2 linked regions of the Homo sapiens genome follow. Changing the gene in region 1 together with any one later gene gives a genetic interaction. Each region holds a gene or a part of one and is shown on either strand. Other genes may lie near its edges.

Evidence for each region. Genes that interact genetically often act in the same process or in processes that back each other up.
Region 2: changes in LARS2 (region 1) and NTRK1 together harm fitness less than expected from each alone (positive genetic interaction), as found in Homo sapiens cells (one large-scale study listed by BioGRID).

Annotation. Positions count from the first base shown.
Region 1 is NC_000003.12:45,391,576-45,395,075, reverse strand, and holds part of LARS2 (leucine--tRNA ligase, mitochondrial), read right to left. Parts: intron 3,494-3,500; 5' UTR 3,428-3,493; intron 644-3,427; 5' UTR 623-643; coding exon 389-622; intron 1-388.
Region 2 is NC_000001.11:156,867,365-156,870,864, forward strand, and holds part of NTRK1 (high affinity nerve growth factor receptor isoform 2 precursor), read left to right. Parts: intron 1-739; coding exon 740-885; intron 886-1,140; coding exon 1,141-1,283; intron 1,284-3,500. UniProt on the Homo sapiens protein: Receptor tyrosine kinase involved in the development and the maturation of the central and peripheral nervous systems through regulation of proliferation, differentiation and survival of sympathetic and nervous neurons.

The DNA of each region.
Region 1 (3,500 bases):
CACAAAGGACCCATCATCTGGTAGAGCTCCTATTTTGATGAGCTTCCCCAGTAAATGTTGCTCTAGAACACCTGGTTTGCTGCTGTCTGTCATACACCTCGTGCGCAATATTACTATGTGTGCATCCACCACATTGGAAACTCTTGTAAACACTACCTTTGTATCACCTCATTTATGCCTCCCAATCCATTTACCCCTCCCAATAGTGCAGGTGGGCACTATTATGATCACTCTCCATCTCAGATAAGAGAATTGAAGCACAGAGAAATTCAACAATTTGGTTCAAGGTCACATATTTAATATCTTATTTGAACCAGGTAGTCTAACCCCAGGGTCCAAACCTTCAACCCCTCTTCTCTACCCTCTTAGAATCTCTCAGAATACTCACATCAGCTTCTGAAATTTTGGAGGCCTGTTCTTTTATTCGTTGATGCCACCATTTCTCAACATCCTTTCTTGTCTGCAATGTATACTCTTTTGTCCACTTTCCCGTGGCACTGTAGATGCTTCTGGTACATCCGGGAATTACTCTCCTTTCCCACTTGATGACATCTGGCCCACCATTTAGCTGTCTTTTCAGAAGAGAGGCATAAAAACCCAATCTCTGCCAAACAGAAGCCATTCTTCAGAAGGTGAGAAGGCCCTGAAAAAGAGGGCAGAAAGCACACTATGAGCTGCCTCAAACCCTCCCCAGAGCTTATCTTTCCATTTGGCACAGTCCAGTGTTCTGGCCCTGTGCTTTCCTCTTACTTTTAATAATTTCTTTCCCTGAAAAGAATACTTTAGCAATTCAATTGAGCTAAACACAAACTTTTTAATAGAAAATATAAAGGGTCAGTAACCCCTAACATCAAAGATGCAAAAATCCTGTAGGAAAAAATGGAGACCATCAGCTGGCCAGCTCCTGCGCAACCTCACAAGTTGCATGGAAGGCATGGAGTGCCCTCCCTCCCCTCCCCATGGGCCAGCCCAGGGACTCTCCAGCAGGCTTCACTTCTTATGTCTTCAAGCCTCAGAAGAGCTCAAGCACATGCTGAGTTGGCGTTAGGCTCAAATATCAGAAGGGGTCTAAATACAGGCCTCCCAGGAGGGCCAGAAATTCTGAACTACTATTAGTAATTTTTATACATATTATGAGTTAAATATACCCTGTAGGCTGAACCAGAAAATAACCATTATTTAGAAGACTGTTAATTCATTTAGTTTCTCCTTCATTTACCAAATATTTATTTATTTATTTACTTACTTTTTAGAGACAGGGTCCTGCTCTTTCACTCAGGCTGGAGTGCAGTGGCATAATCATACCTCAGTGTAACCTCTGACTCCTGGGCTCAAGCGATCTACCTGCCTTAGCCTACCAAAGTGCTGGGATTACAGGCGTGAGCCACCACCAAATATTTAATGACTACCACTAGGCCCACACGTTGTTCTAAGTACTGGGAATATAGCAGTAAACACAAACAGAGTCCCTTCTTTCTTTCTCTGTTTTTTTTTCTTTTTTGAGACAGAGTCTCGCTCTATTGCCCAGGCTGAAGTGCAATGGCATGATCTTGGCTCACTGCAACCTCCACCTCCTGGGTTCAAGCAATTCTCCTGCCTCAGCCTCCTGAGTAGCTGGGATTATAGGCATGCACCAACATGCCCGGCTAATTTTCGTATTTTTAGTGGAGATGGGGTTTCACCATGTTGGCCAGGTTGGTGTCGAACTGCTGACCTCATGATCCACCCACCTTGGCCTCCCAAAGTGCTAGGATTATAGGCGTGAGCCACCACACCTGGCCCAGAGTCCCTTCTTTCGTAGCACTTATTACATACTAGCAGGGAAGCAGATAAGAAACAAACAATAAGGGAGGCAGATGAGAAACAAAAATATATAACATGTGGTCACGGTGAGTGCTATTTTTTGAAATACAACTCATAGGTTGGGGCCTACCAGGATATCCAGTTGTGATTCAAAATCCAATTTTAATGTTTCGTTGGCTTCTTCCACAGGTAAATACTGGAAATGACCTCACTGAAGAAGTTTCATGTTTTATTGCTATTCAAAGGGTTGAGGTGAGATTTTTATCAAATATTTAAGATATAAATACTAGACTAAATAGCCTAAACTTTCTCCTTCTGGCATAACAGCATTCAAGAAGTGCTACAGTGAAAAAACAGATGACAACAGATCTTTTCAAAACCAGAGAGAAATAAAGAAACCCGGCACTCTAAGCTGATGTTCTTTGATTCTCTCAAAATTCCACTTCTATCAGGATTTGGCCTGTTTCACAAAGGTACTAGAACACAAATGTTGCCAGGAAGGTCAATATAGGCTTATAACAGTGAGTTTCAAACTCACATAAGACAGCAACATAATGTGGGCATCTTACAAGTTGGTCTGCCAAAGTCATTGACATTATCAGTTCTCACTACATTAAACACCTCTTGCTTCTTCAGGGATAGAATAAAGTGCAGACTTAAAAAAAAAAATCTCTCTTAGGCCACGGGCAATGGTTCACGTCTGTAACACCAGCATTCTGGGAGGCTGAGGCAGGCGGATCACCTGAGGTCAGGAGTTCGAGACCAATCTGGCCAACATGGCAAAACCCCTTCTCTACTAAAAATACAAAAATTAGCTGGGCATGGTGACGTGCATCTGTAATCCTAGCTACTAGGGTGGCTGAGGCAGAGGAATAACTTGAACCTGGGAGGCAGAGGTTGCAGTGAGCGCCACTGCACTCCAGAGCCTGGGCGACAAAACAAGACTCCATCTCAAAAAAAAAAAAAAAAAGATAAAAAAGAAATCTCTCTATTAGTTGGGCTTGGCTATTTTAAAGTACACAGATCTGATTACAGGCATTTGAACTATATGAAATTGGTTAAATGTTAGCAATTCCATATGACTGACCTAATATACATACGCTTTGTACACTTAAGGCAATTGCATATATTTTTAGGGCTTAGGTTGCTATAATTAGAACTCCCTAATTATATAGAAGTCACAGATTTTATGGTTCTCTTGCCAAGTCAATACTTTCATACCTTTGCAAGCCAAAGAACGCCTGTTTAGCAGAGGACACATAGATGGATGCTTGCCACTTCTCTCCTAGACAGCATCCCCAAAGAACACCTAAGGAGTGTTCTGGGCTATCCTCTCAAATAGAAACAAAAGGGCACAACAAAATTATAAAATACAGTGACTTGAACTGCTCTGCCTACACTGTCTGTCTACACAACAAGAATAAGCTTTCTAAAAATGTTCACATAATACCTGGCTTACTAATGACCTCTGCTTTGCTTAAATAAACCAGTGAACTAGAGAATCCTGAAACAGATCTGGGTATTTAAAAGCATTTAAAGTTCATTTTTTTAAAAAAGCAGGAGCAGATTAGATAGTAATAGATTATTCAACAAATAAGAGAAAAACTTAAAATTAGAGCCCCACCTCAAATCATAAGCCGGAGTAAATCCCAGATAGATTAAATAATGTTTTTTATCTGTAGGTCTGGATCTGAAAA
Region 2 (3,500 bases), on another chromosome or scaffold:
CTCCTTGTCACCATGCTGAGAGCCCTTGCCTGGTTTCTCATCCTGGGGAGCCTGGGGTGAGGGAGCCCCATGCATCCCTCAGACGTCAGCTGTCTTGTCTTCCACTTTCTGCATTAGATTTCTTTCATTTTTACGTTATTTTTTCTTTTTGTAGAGTTGGGGTTTTGCCATGTTGCCCAGGCTGATCTTGAACTCCTGGGCTCAAGCCATCCTCCGCCTCGGCCTCCCAAAGTGCCGGGATAACAGGTGTGAGTCACAGCGCCTGGCTTATTTCTTTTCTTTTCTTTCTTTCTTTTCTTTTCTTTTCTTTTTTTTTTTTTATGAGACGGAGTCTCGCTCTGTCACCCAGGCTGGAGTGCAGTGGCACAATCTCATCTCGGCTCACTGCAAGCTCCGCCTCCTGGGTTCACGCCATTCTCCTGCCTCAGCCTCCTGAGTAGGTGGGACTACAGGTGCCCGCCACCATGCCTGGCTAAGTTTTTGCATTTTTAGTAGAGACGGGGTTTCACTGTGTTAGCCAGGATGGTCTCGATCTTCTGACCTTGTGATCCGCCCGCCTCGGCCTCCCAATGGCCTATTTCTTTGAATAACATCCTGTTACTGGAGTCAGAGAGAAAGACCTCTGTGTCCTCCCTTTCACCTGTAGACGGTCCTCCCTGCTGCCTAACTGCTCCCTCTTATCCCCTGTGATCCCTCAGGCCCTTTCCTTGACTCTGTTGGTGTCCCCCATGCCCCCCAGGGTCCTGTCGGGGAACCCTCTGCACTGTTCTTGTGCCCTGCGCTGGCTACAGCGCTGGGAGGAGGAGGGACTGGGCGGAGTGCCTGAACAGAAGCTGCAGTGTCATGGGCAAGGGCCCCTGGCCCACATGCCCAATGCCAGCTGTGGTAGGTGCCGGGTGAGGGAGGTGGTGTAAGGGGGCTGGGGAAGAGACCTACCTGCCTGAGGGAGAGGGCACTGAGCAAGCACTGAAAAGGCCTGGGGAATGGGCACTGGCAAAGGCTGGGGGAAACTGCCTGGGGTGACATCGCCTGGGCTCCAGGTCATTGAGGAGGGTGGGGGAAGGAGCAGCCCCGCAGTAGAGTTCTGGGGCCACTCCCAGCTCTAACACCCCTTGGCCCTCGGGCGTCCTGGGTGGCCAGGTGTGCCCACGCTGAAGGTCCAGGTGCCCAATGCCTCGGTGGATGTGGGGGACGACGTGCTGCTGCGGTGCCAGGTGGAGGGGCGGGGCCTGGAGCAGGCCGGCTGGATCCTCACAGAGCTGGAGCAGTCAGCCACGGTGATGGTGAGAAGACCTTCGCTGGCAGCCCCCAAGAGGTCCAGGCAGAGCACAGGGGACAAAGATGGGGAAAGAGAGACACACTGTGGAGGAAAGAGACAACGAATAAGGAGCACACTGAGGTTGAGGGACGGACAGAGATGGTTTAGACCCACAGGGCTCAGGCCTATGCTCTGGGGCAGCCCAGGGCACGCACACACCCTCAGGGTGGGCACTGACCCAGCAGGGACCCCAGGCTATACTTGAAGCCCCAGGACTTAGAACCCCTTTCTGGGAACATGGTGTTGGCTGCAAGGGAGAGGGTCACAGAAACCTTACATGTTGGAGCTGAGAGGAACCCAACAGACCATCCCTCCCGTACATCACTTTTCTCTCTCCCTTCCTTCCTTCCTTCCTTCCTTCCTTCCTTCCTTCCTTCCTTCCTTCCTTCCTTCCTTCCTTCCTTCCTTTTATGGAGTTTCGCTCTGTTGCCCAGGCTGGAGTGCAGTGGCGCGATCTTGACTCACCGCAACCTCCGCCTCTCGGGTTCAAGCGATTCTGCGATTCTCCTGCCTCAGCCTCCCGAGTAGCTGGGAGTACAGGCACGCGCCACCATGCCCAGCTAATTTTTGTATTTTTAGTAGAGACAGGGTTTCACTACGTTGGCCACGCTGGTCTCAAACTCCTGACCTCGTGATCCACCCACCTCGGCCTCCCAAAGTGCTGGGATTACAGGTGTGAGCCACTGTGCCCGGCAGATCACTTTTCTATATAAGGAAACTGGAACCCAGGGAGGAGGCACAATATCAGTTGTACTGCATCCGGGATGAGTTCTCGGGGGTATCGTGGTCTTTTTTCTGGAGATTCTGGAAGCAGCATCCTCTTGGGCATGTGATGAACGTATTAGTAAGGGAGGCATAGGTCTGGCTCCAGCTCTCTCACTAATTAATTCTGGGAATGACTTTCAGAAAAATCCCTTAATCTGCCTGCACTTTGGTTTTCTTATCTGTAAGCTGAGAAGGTGGACATGATGGCCTTCTGATGTCCTGCCTGCCCCTGGGCGTTCTCTGGCCTCTATCTCTGTTATCCATACATGCCTTTGGACATCTTCCCAGGCCTTACCCTTTGTCCTTAGGCTGGCGATGGGCCGATGAGAGTAGCCACAGGTAACTCAGTCGGCCTTGTTGACGAGGTCAACGGCAGCTGACAATGGGCTGTGCCCACCCAAAAAGCTGGCTCCACCTGGGCAGGAGGAGTGGATATGCAGGGACCAGGAATGTGTGCCTGGGGGGCTGGGAGCATGGTGTTTATTTGGGGAGCCTTCACTTTGGTGGGAGAGTCCACCCCAGAATTGCTGGAGGCCCCTGGAACCATGTTGAGGGAGATGCCACTGGGGCGCTGAGCAGGGGGCTTCAGACATGGTGGAGGGACAACTAGCCACTGAGCAGTTCCTCCCTGCTCCAGAGAGCAAAGCTGCCTAGAGTGAGTAAAAGAAAGGGGACCAGGCAGAGGCCATACCCCTGCATGGAGAGACCTTAGATCAACTCTGTTTGGGGTGATTCCAGGATTTGCTTTCTCTTTGGGAGACTTACATGTTTGCTACCATCTGTGTTTTCTAGAAACTACCTATACAAAAGTCACTCCCTACTGGGCACAGTGGCCCATACCTGTAATCCCAGCACTTTGGGAGGCCAAGGAGGGATAATCACTTGAGACCAGCAGTTTGAGACCAGCCTGGGCAACAAAGCAAGACCCTATCTCTTAAAAAAAATTGCACCCTAAATGGGTTAAATGGAGGAGAAGAGAGGCTGCTCTCCCTCAGTTAGGAGGATAAGGGGTGGCAGACCAGCTCAAGGGGAAGAGTTATTGGCCCCACAGTAGTTGGAGGGGATGGGACAGCCAAGGGAAGCAGAGGGCAGGGCAGGGCTTCCCCTCGAAGTGGCTGGAACCCAGAGCTTGCACAAAAGGCTGGAAACTCTACTGGAACCTTTGAACTCACATATTCCAATGGAAGCCTGGGGAAACCATACCTCCTCTGGCATGTGGTCAGAGGATTCCACATTTATAAAGTTTTCGGATAAATGAGATTTATCCACCACTTCATTATTTTCATTTTGTGAAAATCACTTTCTAAAATGTCAGAAGATAATTTGTCCACCTCTTCAGCTTACAAAACAAACAAAAAACCCACAGTTCAGCAAGATGAAGAATTGTCGTAAGATCATGTAACTTACACATGACAAA